Regions from separate parts of the Homo sapiens genome. Here region 1 is linked to region 2. Evidence: fine-mapped QTL for protein levels in blood plasma. A gene starts in region 2. The other region holds a variant in brackets. All regions are shown on one strand. Distances are from middle to middle.

What was found. PIP is the chance, under the fine-mapping model, that this variant and not a neighbour inherited with it causes the effect. The UK Biobank Pharma Proteomics Project read protein levels with antibody pairs (Olink). The fine-mapping took linkage between variants from a reference panel, not from the people measured, so its PIPs are less certain.
Region 1: its variant is fine-mapped to the plasma level of the COL2A1 protein (UK Biobank, PIP 0.98).

Annotation. Positions count from the first base shown.
Region 1 is chr12:48,022,414-48,033,931 of GRCh38, forward strand. LOC105369750 (a long non-coding RNA gene) reads left to right here. Exons shown (of 4, transcript XR_944904.3): 3 at 7,358-7,505; 4 at 8,676-9,035. Among named protein-coding and RNA genes, the nearest start is that of COL2A1, 24 kb to the left of the region's middle. RefSeq lists an enhancer at 1-96. The variant G/A (reference allele first, on the strand shown) is at 6,293.
Region 2 is chr12:48,001,502-48,012,213 of GRCh38, forward strand. COL2A1 (collagen type II alpha 1 chain) reads right to left here and starts at 2,975. Exons shown (of 54, transcript NM_001844.5): 1 at 2,736-2,975. The coding sequence starts at 2,820. RefSeq lists enhancers at 8,845-9,346, 9,347-9,846.

The DNA.
Region 1 (11,518 bases), 21 kb after region 2:
AAAAATTTTTTTTAAATCTAGGTATCTATGGATAAAAGGATATGATGTCTAGATTTTGTTTCAAAACATTTCAGTTGGAGGACAAAGAGTGGGTGAAGTAGGTGCAGTTATGGATTAAACAAGATTGGCCATTAGTTGATACTTATTAAAGCTAGTGATGAGTGCTTGGAAATTTATTATATTATTCTGTCAAGAAAGAAGTGGAAGGAAGGAAGAAGAAAAGGAGGGAGTGAGGAAACCTTTTGCTACAGACTACGCTGAAAGAACCAGACAGACCATAGTATACATCTGCTATTCTCATAGTCCTAGCTTTATAGGAACAACTGCCCAGTGGATTGCCTGGTCAGTGTTTGAAAGCCTGGCAAATTTGTGGGTGCAGAGGCATGTTCTTCTCACTCTCACCCCCGCTCTCTATCCTCAGCATCACCCAGAGAGAGGGACCAGAATCCCTGAGGCCATCTTGGTTCATCTGCACCGTCTCTCCTACACCTCTTCACCCCTCCCCTCTCCACTTCACTCCAGGCTGCATTGGGGCGGGGAGGTGATCATCCAAGGCCCTGGCTCTCCATCGAGACCCCAGCCAGGTAGAGCCCCTATTGCCTGAGCAAGCTTGCGCAGGATGGGGCTGGAGCTGCACTATTTGGATCTTCTTGGAGTAGAAAATTCACAAATTCCAACCTCTGCTCCCAAAGCAAACCTCCCCAGCCCAGGTGGCTGCATCCTTCTCCTCCCCTCCCCCCAGTTCCCTGGGTCGCCAAGCCGGAGGCTTTGAAAACCAGCTTGTGTTTGGTTTGTGAAAGCACCAATGTTTGCAATGTTTGCCCAGCAGAGAAGGAGCATATTTTCTCCCTTCCAAATGCAAACTCAAAAGATGCTCCACCAGTTTTTCTTCAGACTTTCCACAGGAAACATAAATAAGAAAGAAAAATGACTTTAGGTGCTGAGACCTGAAATGGAATTTCAACCCTGAAGGAACTGCCTGTAACAAGCACTCTCTGTCCTTCAGTGAAGGCTTCGAGAGCCTAGGTGCATGTTTCTTTCCTCTGAGTAGCCTTCACAGATGAGGCAAGGGGAGGAGCTGAACCAGTTCTTAGACCTGACTCCCAGCTAGATCTTCAGCCCCACACAATGAATGGCCGGTGACTGGCACAGCAGCTGAGATTCCCTGGCTACAGTGTTCTTTTTTATCTTTCTTGATTGTGTTAGGGTAGAACAAATGAGGGTGCTGCAACCCGAGAGGCCCAGCCACACTGCAAGCCAGCACAATCAGAGTGTGAAGTGTGGACACGCCCCCCTGGAACACAAGGCCACAGTTTGCCACCTGCTCTGCCCTTGTCTCCATCTCGGAAGAAGGACATCCCTGATCTGTGGCCTCTGTCCTCACGGATCTTATAATTATCAGACAAACACAACCACAGAGAGGCTGGAAGGCAGTGCTTCAGCATCACACATATATGCATCGGTGACCAGAGTTCTGATTAATCTTAATGCACAGATAATTGGAGCATTTCTTGCTCACAGCTTATAGCCACCAAATGACTGCTTCCAGGTTAGGAGTTTGCAGAATATGTACACACACGGAGCCCTACAAAAGGCTCCAGACCCAAGAAATACAGGGTTGAAGTCAGTGTGGACAGTTCTAATGCAGCTAATACATTCTAACTGATTTGTTGTGAGCTAAGGGTTCAGTGTTTACACTTCAAGGTCACTGTTTCTGTCTCCTGACATCTGAGAACCTTTCTTCTTCTTCTTTTTTTTTTGAGACAGAGTCTTGCCGTGTCATCCAGGCTGGAGTGCAGTGGCATGATCTCGGCTCACTGTAACCTCTGCTTCCCAGGTTCAAGCGATTCTCTTGCCTCAGCCTCCTGAGTAGCTGGGATTATAGGCACCCCCCGCCAGACCTGGCAAATTTTGTATTTTTAGTTTCGCCGTGTTGGCCAGGCTGGTCTCGAACTCCTGGTCTCAAGTGATCCACCCACCTTAGCCTCCCAAAGTGCTGGGATTACAGGCGTGAGCCACCGCGCCTCACCCAAGAACTTTTCTTCTTAAGGTGTTTTCCTTTCCCATAGCATTCTATCTTTGGATAGGCCCAACGAGGCCATTGAGCATCTACCCTTTTTACAAAACATATTATCAATCTTATAGCCCATATGTTTAGTGATAAGTCAACTAAACAAAGCAAGGGACCCCACTGGAAGGTGCTTGTGGGAAGTGTACCCTTCCATCTAGGACTTCACTTTGATGTACCAAATTCTGAGAAAGACCCCAGAAGCCATTTCCTTCTTGCTGAGGTTTATTTATCTTGTTTATCTGAAGCCAGGGCCAATAACCCAAATGGCTTTCAAATGGCTACAAAAGTGTCTCAGCATTCGATTAATCAGTCCCATCACAGACAAGTCAACTAACCTGCAGACCCACGTGCTGTACTCATAGTCGTTGCTGGTTCTGGCAGGGGTGATCTGGGAGGAGGTATTTCCCGGAGGTGTTTCCGAAGGGAGAGGCACTAGCTGAAGTTGGCTCTGAGATTCGAAGCGGAGGAGGAAAGGGAAGGTGGAGTGCTGATGCTGACAAGGTGAGGAAGAGGAGGAGTAGAGGTTACCAGCGCTCAGAGCATGGGTTTTGGAGGCACACAGATCTGTGCCCAAAGGGCTATCAATGCTCTTCCACTTCATTGCTGAGCAACCTGATGTGTTCATACGTTCCCTGATGTGTAAAAGTGGCACAATACTTGCGTCTACCTTATAAAGTGCCTGCAAGCACTAAGACAAAATGTAGACAGAGCTTAATGCAGTGCCGGACTCAGTCAACAAATAGCAAATGGAAGTCGTTCTCATTAAACAGCGAAAAGGAAGTAAAAAGGAAGACAGAGGAAGACAAAGGGGAGATGGGGAGGGGATGCCGTGGGAGGCTGTGGGTGGGGTGCAGAGGCTGACACTGCAGACAGCAGCCCCTCACCCAGCTCCATCTCTGGGCGCCTGGGACAACACAGCTCTCGGTCCAGACAGGCTGCTCAGATGTTTATTAAGAAACCACCCATAAAAGTTATTGGAAACTTTACATTTGCAGCATGGTCTCTGCACACTGCCGAGCTGCCACGGCTCTCAACAAGGCCTCATTCACGGCCCTAGGCAGCTCACTTGCCTGCCCCCAGCCCCTGGGTCTCAAGCCCACCAGGGTGCCTCCCAGCCCCCGCCCCCAGCCCAAGCCTGGCCTCCTTCCCTCCCTTGGGTCTGAGTGATTTTCTGATTTGCCTTTTCCAAATGTGAAATCTTTGAATGAGGTCACTTCAACTGGAGAGCAAGGGATAGGCCACAAGACAATGTTTCCTAAGTGCAAAGGTCCCTGGGTGATTTTAGGTAGAACTTGGATGAAAGTTTTGCATTCTAATAGTGTTATATATAGTATCTATATTTTAATGTACATGTGTATGTATTTTGGCAGGGACCAAACCTGTAAAACAGATTTATTTTAATAAGTATTGGAGGAAAAGGTAGAATATCAATCCCATGTTACAGAGTTTTCATTTCAAGTAAACTTGAGTAAAGTAAAAGAGAATGAGAAAGTTGACTTAAGGAAACCATAAAAACAATCATAGTCTAGGTGACCCTCAGATCTAGCAAATCGATCTGGGAACACTGCATGTGATCTCAGCCCTCACCTAGAGCTGTCTGGACACAGCAGTCTGATGGACACAATTTTGTTCTACACAGGGAGGTCCTGCCCCGGGCTGGTCAGAGAGGGGGCCTGCTCCTTATCCAGAGAGTTCTAGTGACTTGTCCCGGCTCCCTGGGTCATGGTTCTGCCTGTCCCCTCCAGTCTGCACTTGGCCAGACTTTTCTACTGAGACACTGTCTACAGGCACAGGGCAGCTCCTCAGATCAGCACCCAAGGCCCTTCTCATCCAGCTTTCCTGTCTCTGTCCCTGGTTGGCTTCTCCACCAGGCCCAGTGTACTCAGGGCCAGGACGGCGTGGCTCCTCTCTTTGGTTTCCCCTCTGCTTAGACTGCTCTGCTGACACGATTTGCCCACTGGCCTGACTTGTTCCTGCTCCCCCACCTTCTCCCAGGCTCCCAAACCTCCCCCTCCCTGCAAGTGGGGCAGATAGTACAGCATCATGCTCGAGTTCAGGCTCGAGTTCTAATCTTATAACTACTGCTTGCCAGCTCTGTGTGCTTGAGCCAATTGCTTAACCTCTCTGTTACTCAGTTGCCTCATCTGTTATGGGGGGCAATGGCAGCAACATCTTCCTCCTCCCAGGTTTGTTGGGAGAACTGAATGAACAGACAGTACCAGATTCACAGTAACAGCAAGTACACTGCATGGCTGTGCCTTCATTGGAGTTTAGTTCTTGCCAAGAGCAGCCTTTCAGCACTCATTTTCCAGGGAGTAGGTGCTTGATCTGTTGGCTGATTATGGATGTACCATGAGGTGTTTTCTACATACAATCTCTTGATCCCTGAGCCTGAGAGCTGAGTTTCTTTCCTGGATCTAACAGCCCTGTGGAAAGTTGGAGAGCACTTATTCCTGGGCTATCGCACAGCCGTCTCTTCTCTGGAAGGTCTGGTCTCCAGGGCTCTTCGTGGAGCTCATCTTCCTCTGTCAAGTTTGGCCTAGGAGACGGAATCCTCCAGGAGCAGGCCTGGCTGGGGATGCACATAGACCTTCCCCGGCACAGAAAGGACAGTGCCTGGGGACACTCAAGGCCATCTTCTCTGAAGCCCACCCACGTGGACAGACTAGAGAGAAGCCACTAGCACACACCCAGTGTCTCCTTGTGCCAGACACTAAGTTAGGTGCACCCTACAAGGTCCAGGCCCTGGTCCTTCAGCCGTTGCTCAGGTGGCTACAATGACAGCTCCAGAGCCTGGGGATTGGGGCGAGTTCTCCAGAGCCTGGGGGTTGGGGTGAGTTCTCCAGCCGTCAGCCTGTGGCCACCCTGGAGCATGCTCAGAGGGAGCGGGCTCCAGCCTCCTGCCTTCCCTCGCCCCAGGCCTCAGCCTTTTCTGAAAGAAATGTTGTGTTCCCTCGGCCCTCCCCCCTTGCCACATCCCCTTCCTCCCACAGAGCCCGGGTCCCCCAGGCTACAGTCCAGCAGTCCCTCTGTGAGCAGACTTCCAGTGACACATGGCTTTGTTAGAAACCTCATTAGCAGAGACAGAAAGGCGAGAGGCAGCTCAGAGAGGCATTCCAGGTGTCAGTTAAGAGGGGCCGCAGGAGGAAAAGGCCATTAAACCACAACTAAGGTCAGCCCCCGGTAGAATGAAAAAACAATAAACTGAGACCTTGGAGAGTGGTGGGAAGGTAACTGGGGAATTGAGGGAGGGTACCCCTGCCTCAGGCTGGGGAGGGAAGGCCTTGGGTCCTGGAAGGGACACCAGCTTGTCTTGCCTGATGCTGGGAGTCTCAGAGGCTGTTCTGTGTAAACTCCTGGAGGCAGGGACTGGGCCCCAGGAGACTCTGAACCCCGCGCCCAGCGCACGCTCAGCACACCACAGGCACTGGGCACGCGCCTGATGAATGAGTGGAGATTGAGCCTGGCGCACAGGAGGAGGCTGGAGTGCTTGCCATGCATTAGATGCTGGGCTCGGCACTGCCTGTCTGCAAACTCTTCGTACCCCAAGACGTGAGTATTATTAGCTCCCTTTTAAAGACAAGCAAACGTAGACACTAGAATATGTTATTTTGGGGCTCCCCAGACTCTGGGAATTCACTAGAACTCTACCTATTGATACTTGGAACTTCTGAAACAGACACATTCCTTCATTCCAGAATTAGTCATAAAAAGGCTGAATGAGGCCGGGCGTGGTGGCTCACGCCTGTAATCCCAGCACTTTGGGAAGCTGAGGCAAGCAGATCATGAGGTCAAGAGATGGAGACCATCCTGGGCAACATGGTGAAACCCCGTCTCTACTAAAAATACAAAAATTAGCTGGGCGTGGTGACGTGTGCCTGTAGTCCCAGGTACTCAGGAGGCTGAGGCAGGAGAATTGCTTGAACCCGGGAGGCAGAGGTTGCGGTGAGCCGAGATCGCGCCACTGCACTCCAGCCTGGTGACAGAGCGAGACTCCACCTCAAAAGAAAAAAAAAAAAGGCCGAATGCCTGTGGAGGCTAAGGCAGCACACTGAAACTCACTCCTGAAGGGTCATTAGAATGATTGTCTGGTATCTGGAATTCCCTGGCCTGTCAAGGATGATGGGGGCTGCCCTGAGCTGGGGAACATGCTCGGCTGAGGGAGGTGGAGGACAGTGGCAGGCCTGTGTGCACTCCCAGCGTTGCCTCAGTGAGCTGTTT[G/A]CCTTCACTGGGCAGGGACCCACAAGGGTCATGTATTTTTGTCATGCCTGACGGGGAATGCACATGATTTATGAAGTTTTTTTTAACCTGAGGCTTCCTCATAAAAGAGCTTTGAGAAGACTGCAGCCAATCTGGTTATGAAAGGCCTTCCTTTCTGGGATCTGTTAGACAAGATATTGTTGACTGCCTGCCCTCAAGAATGAGGGACCACGTGTGCTCCACCCTAGGTCTGGAATGGCCCAAGACCCCAGGAAAACTGCACGTGGATTTGTACCTTGTTCTCCTATCCCATCTCAGGCTTCTTGCCCTCTACACCCTCTTAGCTGACATTTCTACCCCCAAGAAACCTGCCCCAAGAGATCTCTGAGTCCCTGATCCCTTATGCCCTTGACATCAAAGGTCCAAGCTTCCCTGGACAAGTCACTTGACCTCACTAAGTCTCTTTTCTCATCTGCAAAATGAGCATAAAAATATCCACCTTGAAATCTTCATAGTAAGGGATTCAATCAATGTCTCACCAGCTGGAAAGCTCTCTGAGCTCTCTCTCTCTCCATGTGTCATTTAATCTTGTCTCCCTAGCACCTAACAGAGTGCCAGGCACATAGAGGCCAATACTAAGTGGCAACTTGTAGAAATGACTTCTACTGAATTCAGTGAATTCAGTGATGAGGAATAAGTAAAATGTGTTTGTAAATTGCAAGCACAGTGCCTGGCACTTGGTAAGCATTTAGAAAATTTGGGTTACGCCTGCATTTGAATCTGACTCTCCCCTACAGATGCCGGACCCAAGACTCTGGCCCCAGTGGTGAGGCAGGGACCCCAAGGTTCCAGCCATCTCCTCCTGGCCTGACTGGGGCTGCAGGGGACCTGTGTCAGTCTCCCTCCTTGGCGCCCCCTCCCCCATCCCAGACCCCTGGCCTCTTGATATCCCGGCAGCAGCCCCCACAGCCCCTCTGGGGTGGTGGGCGTCCCTGTGTCGGCACAGCTAGGCTGGGCCCCTCTCCAGGGAAGGGGCTGAAGGGTGTGAAGGACTGGTGTGTATGACTTTGTTTATTTTCTCTGAAGAATCCTGCCTGAGCCCTGCTATAAAAATAACCTGCCTGGAAACCTCATCTCCAAGGGGTAGAAAGAAGCTTTTGTATCCAGGGAAGCTGCTCTAACTGCCTCCCTGTACCTTCGCCTCAGCCCATGCATCAAGGAGGAGCCAGCCAAGGTGATGAGGGGCCAGGGCAAGGGAGAGGGATGTGTGGGGAGGGAGGAGGGGACGGAAGGGCAGCTCAGCAGCCTCTTGCCCTGAGCACGGCAGAAGCCTCTCACTTGTCTGCTCGACCCAGGAAGATCCAAAGGAGGAACTGAGGGAGAGAGAGGGAAAGAGGAAGTCAACAAGAGAAAAAAACACTGGATGTTGAGAGAGACAAGGAGGCCAGGAGACAGAAGATCAAATCCAGGACAGAGGAGGGGCATGGGGAGAGTGGGGAGGAGAGTGAAGTCAAAGGAGAAAGAAAACCAAGAGACGTGTATGCAGAGACACAGAGCTCAAGGGATCAGAAAGAGGCTGTGGCCATGTTTACAGACGTAGCTTAGCATGTGGTCCCCACCACCAAGGGAGAAAGCAGGCACAGCCAGGCTGTCCCTGCCACCTGCTGGGTTCCTGCTCTGCTGCACAGCCCAGCTTCCACTCTGGCTCAGGCTGTGGCAGAAAAGACAAAGGTCCCCCGAGCACCCACTATGGCCAGGCCCTGGGTGAGGCATGAGACCAAGCCCCACTAAGGCTTCTCAAAGTGTTCCTTCCCAGGAGCCAGGCCTGATGGCACGGAGCAAGTCTGCACTGTCACCAAATTCAGGAGGCCTGGATTCAAGTCCCAGTTCTCCTGCTTTTTAGCTGGGTGATCTTGTACAAACCACTTAGAATTTCCCAGCCTGGTTCTCTTATCTGTAAACCATAAATAGTAAACCTCCCTGTCTACCTCCCGGGGCTGTTGAGCAGATCTATGGAAGCATATCTGAACAGGTTCTCCAAGTTGTATGGTGCCAGCAAGACAAGAGGGAATGACCCATTCCTTTAGCCATATTTCTCTAGGTAGCCATCTTAGGATCATGGGTGAGCCATACGGAGAATGAACCAACATAGGAAACTCCTATTACCTCTGTTTTCACAGTAGAGGAAACTGAGGCTTAAACAGGTTAGTAACATGCTCACCATCGTGTATTAATAGCTCTTAGGCAACAGAACATGAATCCAGGTCTCTATATTCAGAGTCTGTGTAGACCCAGAGTGCTGGGCCTTCTCTCCAATCTAATGGCAGAGGCTGCCCAAGAATGACCTGGGACAGTCTGCTCCACTTCCTTTAAGGATGAATTAATTTCCAATTGTTCTATGCAGGCCAGACCTATCTCTCCTTGGAGACTGCACAAGCAGGTGAGCATTAAAGGAAGGCGGGAGGCCAATTTTTGCCCAGCATTAGGAAGAACATTGCTATTGTTCCAGCAATGAAGTGAGCTGCCTGAGAGAGTCCGAGCTCTCTGTGGCTGCGAGGCCAGCAGGCCAGGACTTGCAGAGACCACTGGTGCCTATAGGAGGCACATGCTGGGCTTGACAAAAGAAAGCCCAACATTTTATACCCCTTAAGTCATCCCCAGCCCATGCCTTGTTTCCCCATCCGCACAGTGGTTGGAGCAAGACTAGATGAAGGCTGAGGTCTTGTCTAGCTCTAACTTTCTAGAATTCTGGAATTCCTGAAGGCAGGACTCCAGGCCTCAGGGTCTGGCCAAGAGAACAGAGACGTGGCTGTTTGTCCAGCTTGGTAGAACAGTGGAGCTTATTGAGCTTGCGGTTCCCTGAAACAGAACCAGTCAAAAGGCATACGCAGAGAAGGTAAATTCATCTGTGGGTCTGGTGAGAGTCACTGAAAAAAATGTAGTGCTTGAGGACTGTCCAAGGAGAGCCAATTTTCAACTCATAGCCTGTGATGCTGCGCCCAAACAATGAGAACAGCACACTGGGCTTCATCCAACCACGGCCAGAGGGAAAACAGTGATCTTGCAGATGATGTCCTCATCGATAGCACAGTGACCAAGCGGCCCTGCATGGTGGGGGCCCCTTAAAATGGTTCCCCTTCCCTTGCAGGCCTGGTCAGGTGGTGTTTGTAAAGCAAAGGGAACCCTTTTAGAAATTTGCCTTGAATTAAACGATTGTTGTTCATGAGACCAAGAAGTGTTTATTTCAGCAACAGAAAGACCTTCCTAAGTTTTGAGCCCAGAATTAGAGTGAGGCGGGCTGGGGTCTACTCCCTGGATATGTTTGAGTTAGACTAGAGGCTGGGAAGTGGACAAGATGCTGTTGTAAAGCTTCTAGTGATCGCTATGGGACGTTCCTTCCACTCTTTGCTCTAATGACGATTAATGTTGATGCAGTGACTATTTTAATGTGCTTAGACACCTGCAACCCCATTTGGCCTTCACTACAATATGCGAAGTAACTGGCTAATATTATGTAGGTAGTAAATAGATAAGATTATGCCCATCTTAGGAGAAAATGGAGGATCAGAGAGGGTAATTCTAAGGGCCCTCAGTTAGCAAATGATGGCTTTGAGGCTTGAACCTAAGCCTCTTGGCCCCAAATGCTGTGCTCTTCATAGCACTCTGCCATCCCTCTGCCCCCATTTTGGGGCCATGCAGGGCTGATTTTTCCAGGCTGCTTTTTCTCTTGTTTAGGGACAGTGCAAAACTATTGGAGCTGGATTAAAACCTTTACAAATACCAAGTTTTGAAACGATTGGTATTCAAAATGAAAGCAATTCTAACGATTAAGTATAAAGAAGTCTGACGAAGTTCTAACTTTTGCCATGAGGATTACTTTGATGCTTTAAAAATATGAAATATCAGAAATTAAATCTTAATTTTTTATATAGTACCCCTGCCTTCCTGTGCCTTAAGTAGTTTCTAGTCTGTCCTTGGCCCACCTAGTCCTGAGGACTTCCTAACACCACAAGCCCCAGAGCAGAAAGACAGGCTGTACCAGAGCGGAGCAGGAGGTGACTGTTGAGCAGGAGCAGGGAGCAGGAGAGGTTTTGGGAGTGGGGCCCAGGCAAGCAGGAGGAGCCAGAGAAAGTTAGGCTCCCACAGAGCTGTGAATCATATTCTTCCTGAGCTTAGGAAATGCAACAGTGACTGCCATTCCTACCCTCAGGAGGAGACAGACCTCAGATCCAGAAGGGCCATAGCAAAAAAGTGGAAGAAAACCAGTCTTAGGAGTGTCCAGTAAGAGAAGTAGAAAAGGCACTAGAGATGCCCTGATTCCCTGCTCCCAGTGGAGCTGACTCTACCCTCCAGAACCTTCAGGCTGGGACTCCTTCCTGCATTCTCTGGTTCCTTCTAGATGCCAGTCTGGGGATGAAGAAGGCTGGAGTTCAGTTCAAGGGAACCTGTCAAGTATCCCACTGGCATATTTTCCAGTCTTCCTCACTCTTTCTGATAGCATAGAGGCTGGAAGGGGGCAATGGAAGGGATTACAGGAAGAAGACAGAGAAAACAGTGTTAGCAAGTGGATTCTGAGTCCTTTAATAATCAATAATAATTAATATTAATAACTACAAATTAATAAGCATCTGCAAAACTCTTTTAAGTAATATAAACAGCTAATAAGTCTTTCATTCCTGGCCTCCAAAAGAAGTAAAATGTTTGTTTGGGGAGCAGCCGGCTTACAGGACTTCCACTGATTCTTCCTAACACAGTCCCTCCTGCCCACCCCATCTCCCTAGCAGTCCTGTCCCTTGTCCCTGAGCCACCCATCCTTTTAAAAATCCTGTAGAGTGATGAGGGCTGGCTGTTTTCTGGCTGATGGTGGGAGGGGCTGGAGACCCCTGTATGTTGGTGGGGCAGCCCAAGGTCCCTGAGGACCCAGGGGTGGAGAGCTTCTTGTGGAAGCTGGAACAGTGAACAAAGAGGCTTTTGAGCAAGTCCTCAGCAAAAGCTCTGGAGAGCCAGTGGCTTCAGCCAGCCTCCCAGCTGCCCTCATACCCCCAAGGACTGGCTGAGGTAGACTGCTGGCTCTGGCCTCTTCTCCCCAGAGAGATCCCTTATGCAGCTTTGTGCCCCAAATGCTGCACCGCAGTGCCCAATGCATCTGAAATGTCACCAGAGATGGGGTCATCCCCCCAAAAATGTCCTCTCATTCCTTCTCTTTTCTAAGAGTAGAGACTTTGGAGTCAGACAGATCTTCTGTCA
Region 2 (10,712 bases):
CCAGCCCAGACTACAGGAGAGCCCACCCTCGCCCATGAGGACCCAGGGAGGAGAGGGGGAAATGCTAGGAGAGGGGCCACTCCCCGTGCGGATCAGATTTCCCGGGGAAGGGCGGCCCGGGAAGCGCCGGCGCAGGGGCGGGGCCAGGCTGCGCTGGGTGTAAGAGCCGCTGAGTGACTCTGTGGCTGCGGCTCTGGACACGGCTCGCTCACAGACACCGGGAGAGTGAAAAGTGGGATTAAATGACTGCCCCAGAAAGGAGCCAGCGCCGTAACCGGATCCCCTAGGTGTGGACGGAGGAGCCCAGCACCACCATAATTGCTGCTCCAAAACGGCTGCCGATAGCATCCCGGCGCGCCTGATCCGGTTCCCCTCATTACCGCAGGGCCGTATAAGTGATTCTTTGTGGCAAGCCAATTAAAAAGCTACCTCTTTCGGGGAACTGTTTTGCTTCACCGCCGCTCTGCGCAGGGCTGGAGCCGAGAGGTGGCGGCGGGCGGGCACAGGGGGGCATTGTGGGAGAGGGGGTCTGGGAGTACGAGAGAACCCACTGGACCTCGTCTCTCATGAATGGGGCTTTTCTCGAGCGCACACAGAGCCCGATTCACAGGTCTCCGCGAGGAACCAGTTTAAATAAATACGGGCAGCGTTTCAGCCCCATCTGGAAGCCATCGCTGCCAATCTCCCAATGCAAACAAGCCTCACAAAGGAGGATTGAGATCTCTCCCCTGAGCCAGGGGCACTTTCGGAGGCGAGGGCTCTGAAATGCAGATGAGGGTCAAAGACGCCGCCGCCAGTAAGTTTCTCAAACTCGTGGAAAGATGGAGAGGAGGGGTGTGGCCGAGCTCTAGGTGTCTGACATTCCTGACGTCCACGCAGACTGCGCATTTCCCCACGTCACACCTTTGGGTCCGCTGACCCCAGGCGGGGGAAGTTATAAAAGGTGGGATGCTCCAGGGCGCAAAATCAGCCTCTCGGATGCAGAATCACACTCCCTCTGGGAGGAGGAGCGACTGGAAGGTTTGGGCCGGAGAAGCTGTGGAATCACTCCCTCCCAGGAAAGATGCGGCGATGAGAGAGCTCTACCGCCTAATTAAGCAAGCGACCCTAATACCGGATGGAGAATTTGAGAATTATTTTAAAGCCACCCAGCTAATTCCATTGCGCACTAAGGCAGGGGTCAGTCAAGAAGACAGCTTTGTGGGCGTGTGCTTGTAAATGTAGTACAAAAATATAGTCAGTCTGAGTCCAGGCCACGTATAGTCACGCTGTATTCCTCAAATGCCCAGGAGCGCGCCTCCAGCTTAGCGCACTACCGGGTGACCCGGCCAGAGTCTCCTGCTCCCGGCTCCTCGCAGCTGCGCCGCAGGCTCCAGCCCTGCCCCCGCTGCGCTAATGACCGGAAAGCCCGCCTGAGCCCGCCGCCTTCCACGCTATCCCTGGAAACAGCCTGGTGGCAGGAGAGGGCCCACAGAGCCTCGAAGGCAGAGAACTTTTATTCCCCCCGCCGAAGAGTTTCCCTCTGCGATTGATTTACAATCTGTAACATACAAAGACAGGGCTGGAATCCCAGCCGTCGGAAACGTGCCCAAACACGTGGAAAAAAAAATCCTCTCTACCTAATACACTTTCCAGGCTTCGTTTGTCCTGAATATAATCCCAGACAGTGGACCTTACCAAAGGAGGGGTAGAAAGGTGCAGTCCGAACAGCATTTGGACCCGACTACAAGAGCCATCTCTAACTATACCGGTTGAAATAGTTGTAGCAACCGTAGCAATCGACCAGCCTGCTCCCCTTCCCTGACACACACATACACACACACACACGCACACACACACACACCACGCAGCCTGGCTCGGTGAGTTCCAGAATTTAGAAAAGTAACTCATTGTAGTACCTCGGGGCGGCGGGGAATGGGGTAAGACCGCGGGGAAGGGGGCGCTATTTTCGGGGGCATTTGAAAAGCACGGTCTGGTTGGAATGTTATCGTCTTTCAGATGGCCTCTCCTACTGGAAGTTTCTGTACCCTTTATCAGAAGAGAGGCGCAGGCGGACGGAGGGAAGTCGAGATGAGCGCTAGGGCTGCACCTTGCTCCAGGGCCAGCTGGGAGGGGGAGGGTACCCTAAAGAGGCGCTGAGGTCTCAGAGGGCCTATCGGAAGCCGTTCTTTGTGGCCTGGGATTTCAGCCCACCAGTGTCAGAGTGTTAGTCCCCTTTGTCTAACTCTGCTTTGAGCCCACCAGCCACCAAGCCTTGGACAGGCTGTGAAGTCAACCCTTTGGCGTTTGCTTGCTCCCTCGCTCGCGCTCTCTCTTTCCTACTTCACCTAAGTTCGATGAGTTGAGATCTGTTTTTGCTGAACTCGAAGTGCTTCGAAGAGGCGAGCTGTGTGCATGTGCGCCTAATTATCAAAGCTGGTGGAAAAGAGCCCATTTATATCTGTGCGCAAACTTCTCCGAGCCAACACTTTGCAAGTTCAGTATTCTAGCGCAACGTAGGGACCTGCAAATACTTGCAACTGCGATGGGCACCGAGGACCCTGGGACAGAGTCCTTGATTGGCAGAACTCTTCTTGGTGAACTTCTGCGTGTCCTGTGCCTAAGTCGGCGCGCTACGACCCCGGGAGCCGTTTTAGCCCGGAGCCGCGGGCTCCAGAGCTGGAGCGGGCCGGGGAGAAGGATGCTGAGGGACGCATGGAAAGCAGGCAGGCAGGCAGGGGCGGGGGAAGACTTACGGACATCCTGGCCCTGACACCGAAGGACAGCGGCGACGAGCAGCGTCAGCAGCACCAGCGTCTGGGGAGCCCCGAGGCGAATCATGGCTCACCGCGGGGCCTGGCTGAGCCGGGCCCGGGCGGAGCGCAGCGAAACGGCAGGAGCACGGCGCGGGTCCGGGTCTCTACCGCGCCCTCATGCAGGAGGCCCTTGGAGCAGGAGGGGGAAGCGGGAGACCCGGCAGCCCAGCAGCGCTCTGCGTCTTCTCCCCGCCGCGGCGCCCGTTATATGCGCCCGGCCCCTTTCGAGGCTGGCGAACTCGCCCAAACCGCGGGCCGCCCCCTGCCCCCCGCTGGGCTGTAACCTGAACCGCCCGCCCCCGGAGCCCGCCTGGGCCCTGCCAGTGCCCGCACCTGCCCAAGCCGGACCCCCCTCTCTGGGAGTCACGCTTCCCGCCCTCCACCCCTAGTGCGCCGAGTGGCCTGATCGGGCGGGGCGCAGAGATGGCCCCTGCCCCCCAAACCCGGGGCTGCGGCGCTGCCCCCCTCTGACCACAGGCGGGAAGGGTGGCCTCCGGCCCCTCCCCTCGGAGTTCTGCCGGAGTTGGAGGGGAGGGGGTGTTTGCAGAGGCGCAGGCCGAGAGCCCTAGACCAAGGACGGAAAAGACATGGGAGGGAGGAGGGAAAGCGGTAGAAAGGAGCAGCGGAGGGCGAGGGGGCACCGCGTCAGGCGTTTGGGAGTGGGGACAGGGAGGAGCCCACAGAGATTCAGAGTCCTAAATCTTGGAGACAGGCTAGCTGAGCCAGATCTGAAGGGTTACCCCGACCTATCTTTTAGCCCTTCCCTGCAGTACCTGGTCCCCAGACTCCCACCTGGACGTTCACAGCGACTGCCCTCCACCCCTCCCCCATCCAGCTCTGCGTTGAAGGCTTCCTCTGGAGCACAGGCCGAAGTTGGCCTGAGCCGACAGCCAGGAAAAGAGCTGGTGTGTTACTGCACAGAAGGAGACCTGTGTGAAGGTGTGGGGGGCAGGGGCAGGCCCTGGGAAGGGGACTGAAAGAGCCACAGAGGACGGAGGGAGCCGAGACTAAACGGTGCAAGCTGCCTGCTGTGGGGGGACTGTCTAGCTCCAGGCTCAGACGTGGTGTCTGCTCTTCCTGGCTGGGGTCCGGGAGTCCCCCGGGGAGTGGGCACTGCCGGCCGTCGTAGAGCAGCTTTGGCCAGGGACGGTTGGTCACTGCTGCGGCCCTGGCCAGGGATCGGGGAGGCCGATCCAGCTGGCGAGTTCTGTGAGCCGGGGAGAAGCGCCAGAATTTCCCAGTCGGCCCCCTAGCCCTCCGCTTGCCGCCTCACCTCACCTTCCCCGGTGAGCGCCCTCTCTCACCTTAGCCAAACTGCCTTCTTCCCAGGGCTTAGCTGGTCTCTTCTCTTGGTCTCCGGTGCCTCCTTTCATACCAGGGAGGAAACGTCCCCAAACAGACCTTCCTTTTGAGCGATATGGTCCCCCAAAGAACTATAGGCAAAATGAAACTCAGAATTTGGGGTCTGACTTAACCAGAACTTCTGCCCTCCTGGGCAGTTTTGTTTCTCTGGAGCTTTCCCCCTAGAAGCTGAGAGCACTTGAAAGAAGCTACTTCTGGGCCTTAGGCTTCCACCAGGGGTCCTGGGACCCCATCCCTAGCCTATCATGCTTTGACACTTGTCCTGGTAGAGGCTGGAGTTCCAAGTGCTCTGGTTGGAAAGGGAAAGAACTCATTGTTGAAGGAAATGCTTCTAGGCTTTGTCCAGTCTGGATGGAGATGGGGAAGAATTCAACCAGTTTCCAGCATCTCCCCTACCTTCCACGGGCCTTGTCTGAGTCTCCATGCTCCCATTCAGGGGCTTGCATTAAGCTCTGGGCTCTTCCTCAGGCCCAATCTCTGCTAGAAGAAAGCTGGTCTCTTGCCATCAGTGCCCCATGTCCTCTTTGGGGCTCAGAAGGTCCTATATTCTCTACCTGGAAGATAGAATGACCAAATTCCACACATTTATCAAGACCTCCTAGGTTAAAGCCCCTCTGAGAAGCCTTCTCTGATATCTCTAGAACACAACGTCTCCCTGGCTTTCTGAATCCCCCTGGCATTTATAGCCTAAGCTACATATGTTTTTGTGTAGTTTTAATTTTTTCCCCTTATATCCATTGGTCTTTATCTCATCAATGAGCTTGGAAGATGCTTGGGGACAAGAACTGTGCCTAGCACAATTCTAACACATAGGAGTTAGGAAAGCCCCTGTGGACTAATAATTTAGATACAACTATAAAGGCATTTATACAACTGACTTCAAATACAAGTTGTCATAAAAATTCAACAGAAAAAAAAAGAATTTGGGAGAACACACTAAAGTATGTGGAAAAAATCGAAGCCTAGTTCAAAATGATCCAGTTTAGTGAGTAGCAAAGTGGTACAGACTCGTTGCAAATTTGTTCTTAATTTCATCCTCTAGCTCTGTGATTCATCTTTGCCAATAGACTGTGTCTACATATAAGAGCTTTGGATTCCTTCCAGCAATCATGGTCCATCTATGAGTACAAGTTAAGCTCTCCACCCACTGTGGGAAAATTTCTTTTCACCAGCAACGGGAATTGACATAAGAAAAATAAAATTTAAAATTTAAATTGACAAAGCCAAAATAAACTATGGAAATTATTAAAATTCTAAAGCCAATTGAACACCAACATTAATATTTTACCCATCTGTGACTCCAAACAACTAATTAAAAACCTCTAATTTGTGACTCAAACTGGAATTAGACCTATATGTGGCACACATATGCAAATCACTGATTTGGAAATTGATCGTCCAACAATCTCACTATCCATACCATACCCAAGAAACTGAAAAGAAGGGGAACTAAACCACTAAATAGCCAGAATTGATGTTATATAAAGCTATGCATTTTGTGCACTGTAGAGTCCTTCTTACTCCATGTCTGCTAATTCATAGTTTAGATATTGTATTAACACGTAATGGCATCTGACCTCACCAATTAGATGCAGAAAACTAGAGGTGAGATAGGAAAGCAGCAGTTGTTGATGAAGCACAATGAGAACAGGAAAAAGGGAGAGTAAGAGAGGACACAGAAAAGCAATGTGAAGTTGACACAACAAATACAAAACATGGTAGCCGAAGGTCAGTGGGGTAGGGTCAATGCCCTTACAGTCATCAATGCTTCCAGGGAATATCCCGATCTACAGCATCTGCTGTAGTCCCTGCGATTCATAATGATAAACTGAAATGTCCAATAAAATGCTAATTTAAGTTTAATGTGGTCTCTTTGAGGAGACAGGAAATATGTATTCCATATTTGAGAAAGGTTGTAAATAAATGTTCATTCACTTAATGTGAAAAATATTCTATCATAGCAGTGTCAGACTAATAAGGAAATGCTGCAATTTCTGGAGCCACTGAACTGAAAACAAAGAGCTTCTGTTTTCCCCAGTTGGTAGAAGAAGAGCATCGATGGCCGAGATGAGTGTCCCACATGGCCAGCCTCACTTACACCTTTAAGTACAGCATGGGTAACTGTAGGTAGAACAGTTAGAAATTAAACAGGTACAATAGGGTGCTGTGCCTCACACCTATAATCCCAGCACTTTGGGAGGCCAAGGCCAGAGGATCACTTGAGGTCAGGAGTTTGAGACCAGCATGGCCAATATGGTGAAACCCCATCTCTACAAAAATATGAAAATTAGCTGGGTGTGGCGGTGTGCACCTGTAGTCCCTTAGGAGGCTGAGGCAGGAGAATCTCTTGGACCCGGGAGGCAGAGGTTGCAGTGAGTTGAGATTGCGCCATTGCACTCCAGCCTGGGCAACAGAGCGAGACTTCATCTCAAACAAAAGAAAGAAAGAGAGAGAGAGAGAGAGAGAAAGAAAGAAAGGAAGAAAGAAAGAAAGAAAGAAAGAAAGAAAGAAAGAAAGAAAGAAAGAAAGAAATTAAACAGTCACAATCAGTGTATCTACCCCAAGTCAGCCCAATTCAGAGAAACAGATGGATTAAATCAGCAATATTGTGTCGTGTAGACAAAATAACCATTTCACTATTTTTCTCTCTTTTATGGAGGCATTAAATTTAGACTCAGGTTGACACAGCCTTATTGGGAAAGATATTTGTAGACAGGCTGTAAAGAAAAGATATCTTTCTCTTCCTCTACACAAATCCCATTTAAAAATAGTGATAAAGTGAAGAAGGATTCACATTCCAAAGAGGTAAGCCCACCCCAAATATGGCAGGTGGTGAATGCACAGACTTCACACAGCAGCCGTGCCTGGGGGTGGTGAGCCCAGCTTACTCAGTGACACTCAGCTTCTGTTGGTTGGGCTCCGTTCAGACAGTCTTTCAAGATGTGTTTATGTTTTCCTTTGGCATTTTGGGGGCAGAGTAACAGAATCAAGACTGTCCAGGATAGGGTTTTCCAGATTTATGGTGTACATTCCATTCCATAGGAGCATAAATGTGTTACTATGTATTCTCAAATGCAAATAGCACCAAGAATCCCACCCAGTCTCCTCCATCCTGTCCTAGTGCCATACAAATTCAGCTTAGGACTCGTACTGAGCACCTACTTCTGTATGAGATGGGGATACAGAGAGGATTTAGATACCACCTCTGCATCTGTAGGGGAAATAGGAAAAAAATGATTGTACAAAATGCTGCAAAAAAGGTATCCCACTCTCCCCAACCCCCTAAAAAAAAAGAAGAAGAAAGAAACAGAAAGAAAGGAAAGAAAGAATGGCATTCTGGAAGCCATGGAGTAAGCTGGGGGGAGGTTTCCTAAGAGAAGCATGTCTCCAAGCATGGGTGGGGGTTTGAAATGCAGAGGTACAGTGAGAGGGCAGGATGGCTCCCAAATGGAAGCAACGAAGGGCAGATGCACCAGAAGACATGGCAGTGGCCCCAGGACAATGTGGAGCCATCTGCAGGGCCCTGGGAATAAGACATGGCAGTAAGGGGTGAAGGCAAGGCCAGACATGGAGGACTCCTTGAATGCCACCGAGTCAGGCTCAGATCTACGTTTCTTCTCACTTTCCCCTCTTCTTCTTACCTCCTACTAGCTAGACCTTTGCGGGAAAAGATAAAGGTGTCTGGGCTTTTTAAAGGCTTACATTTTGAAGAAATGTCTGTATTTTTATACAGAAATGATCTTCCCATTTCACTTTAAAAACAAAGACAACAAAAGTCGTGCGAAATATTGCATTTTCTTAAGGTGGGTAGCTTTCTGCCTTTAAGGAGCATTTGTCTCTCTCATCAGCTCTTGATGGTTCTGAGCTCTAGGAAGAACACAAATGCTTAAATGCAGAGATGTTTGAGCACTCCCAGCAGAAGTTCCATGTGAAGCAAATGGTTCTACAGTAAACCACAACCATTCCCAACAGCCACAGAGCATCTGTTCCAGGCACTTCTCAAGCAATAACACAACATGGGGGTTCCAAGGGATACCCTTTGAGAGGTCAACAACCCACGAGACAGGTGGAACTCTCTCTCCCCATCTCTCTCCCTTCCTTGAACTCCTATTGCATTTGGGTATGGCCAGTTCTATGGAGTTATGCCTTTAGATCATCATCCATCCATCTGTCCATCCATCCATCCCTTCCTCCCTCAAACATGTGAAGAAATCCCATGTGAGTCTATTCACATGCCTCCTTGAGAGCAGGGGCCATAACTTAATACACTTAACTTTTCCCCTGCAAAGCCTGCTTGGCACAGTGCGGTCACATAGTAAATGTGGTCCATGGACCAGCGGCATCAACCTACCCTGGGATCTTGTTGGAAAAGCCGAACCTACCAAATCAGAGTTGGCTTTTACTAAACTCTCCAGATAACTCATATGCCCATGAAGGCTGGAGATGTGCTGGTCTAAATCTTGGTCCACGGAAAGTTCCATACGACCCTGGCTAACAGAGGGGTGTGGTCTGCATGGTCTGCAGTCACACATGACTGGGCTCAGGCCTGCACTGGAGGCAGACAAGGCAAGGAGGAGCCTGAGTTAAAGGTGGCAGAAAGGAGAAGTGAGTTTTAAGGAGAGGAATGGATGGAGGACCCTAAAGGAGATGATGGATGCATGACTTTGTAAAGCCTCCTGCGGTCTTTTTTTAAAGCAGGTGGTGGGTCACTTTTCCTATGTCCCTTTTTTCCAGTAGGAATTGGGCTCAGTGCAAGGAAGAGACTGACCCATGATTAGAACTGGAGCCCTGGATTCCATGGAGACAGTGTCAGGGCAGAGCCAGCAGGGGAGCGGAGTCAGCCACCTGAGCCTCCTTCCCGTGGTGGCCCCTTAGCCCTGCCCCCCAGGGACTCCTGACTGATGAACTCCTCCTAGGTGGGACATACCAAGGAAAGCAAGGAGCTAACTATGATGTCCCTAGGACTAGTAGGGTAGATGCCACCTCAGAGAAAGCCAGGCCCCTGCAAACCAAGTTTATCCTGCTCCAGTGCGGGGGGCGGGGGGCAGTGGGCCTGCCCTCTAGGAAGTCCCTGAAAAGCCCCAGGGAACATACATGTGGTAAGTTTCTAGTGAGCTCCTTTGCCAAAAACAACCTTGAGAGGGAGCAGGACAGTGCATGCTGCCCTTCCCCATGAGGGCCCCTCAGCTGTCCCCACACCCAGCACCTATCCGGAGGCAGCCAGGGCCCCATTGTGTTCTGCACCGCCCCGATCTCCACTCCAGCCTCCAGGCCAGCTCCTTAGCTGATCACCCACCCACTGCCCTTGACACTCTCCCTCCCAGAATCCTGGGTGCAAAATCTTGGGGTCCTGCTCGACTGTCTCCCCTTACTCTATCCTCCCTCCTGTCCCATTCCCCCTCTCATTCCTCGGCCAGCATTTCTTCATCCCCTGTGTTGAGCACAAGCTATGCGCCAGGCACTTGCTAGGTGGTATGGAGGGACAAAAGAAAGCTCTATTAGACATGAATCCTACATGCAAGGAGATGACTACCTCTCGGGGGATACACAAAAAGCCAAACTGTAAGGTAAACAAGTTATAATATATTGTGATGTCATGTGGCATTCTATGATGTGCTGTAGCACAATACAATGTCATGGACAGAAGCGCTCTGTTCTGCCCTTTCACTGAAAATAGCTCTTCCTGACACAGGCTTGGGTAGTGAAAGCAGCTTGGTCACATCTGTCCCATGGTGTAACTAATCTTTAGGATCTGCAGAGACCTGCCTTCCTCTGCAATTGTAACTGTACCTCCAATCGTGAGTTTCGTCTGGCAGCTTAACTGGGCTACCAGCGAGGTCCTCATAATGGCTTTTGCTCCTTGCCTCGCGGAGACCCGACTCTGGAATCCTTAGCCAGTGGTATATGAGCTTCTTTCTCATGGGGGATAGGAGGAAAGAATCCTGCATGTGCCCCAGTTTCCTCCCATGCAAGCCTGTCAAGAGGCCCATCTTTATCCTAAAAGTGCCTAGAGGCTGGGCGCGGTGGCTCACGCCTGTAATCCCAACACTTTGGGAGGCCGAGGCGGGCGGATCACCTGAGGTCAGGAGTTCGAGACCAGCCTGACCAACATGGAGAAACTACTAAAAATACAAAAAAATTAGCCGGGCATGGTGGCGGGCACTTGTAATCCCAGCTACTTGGGAGGCTGAGGCAGGAGAATCGCTTGAACCTGGGAGGTGGAGGTTGCAGTGAGCCGAGATTGTGTCATTGCACTCCAGCCTGGGAAACAAGAGCGAAACTCCGTCTCAAGAAAAAAAAAAAGTGCCTAGAAACTTACCACATTCTTAATGCTTTCCTGGGTAAAAATACAAAGAAGTGAGGGTTGGCTGCCTTTTAATTTCCCCAGATTAGATGCTGCAACTGCACTTCCTGGCTCCGTCCTCTTGAGCAAGTGAATTCGCTTCTCTGAGCATCAGAGAAGTAATCGGTAAAACAGGGATAATAGTAATTTACTCATGGGCTTGTTGTGAGCAGTAAATGAAGTAACAAACATAAAGCCTCGGGAGAATGCTT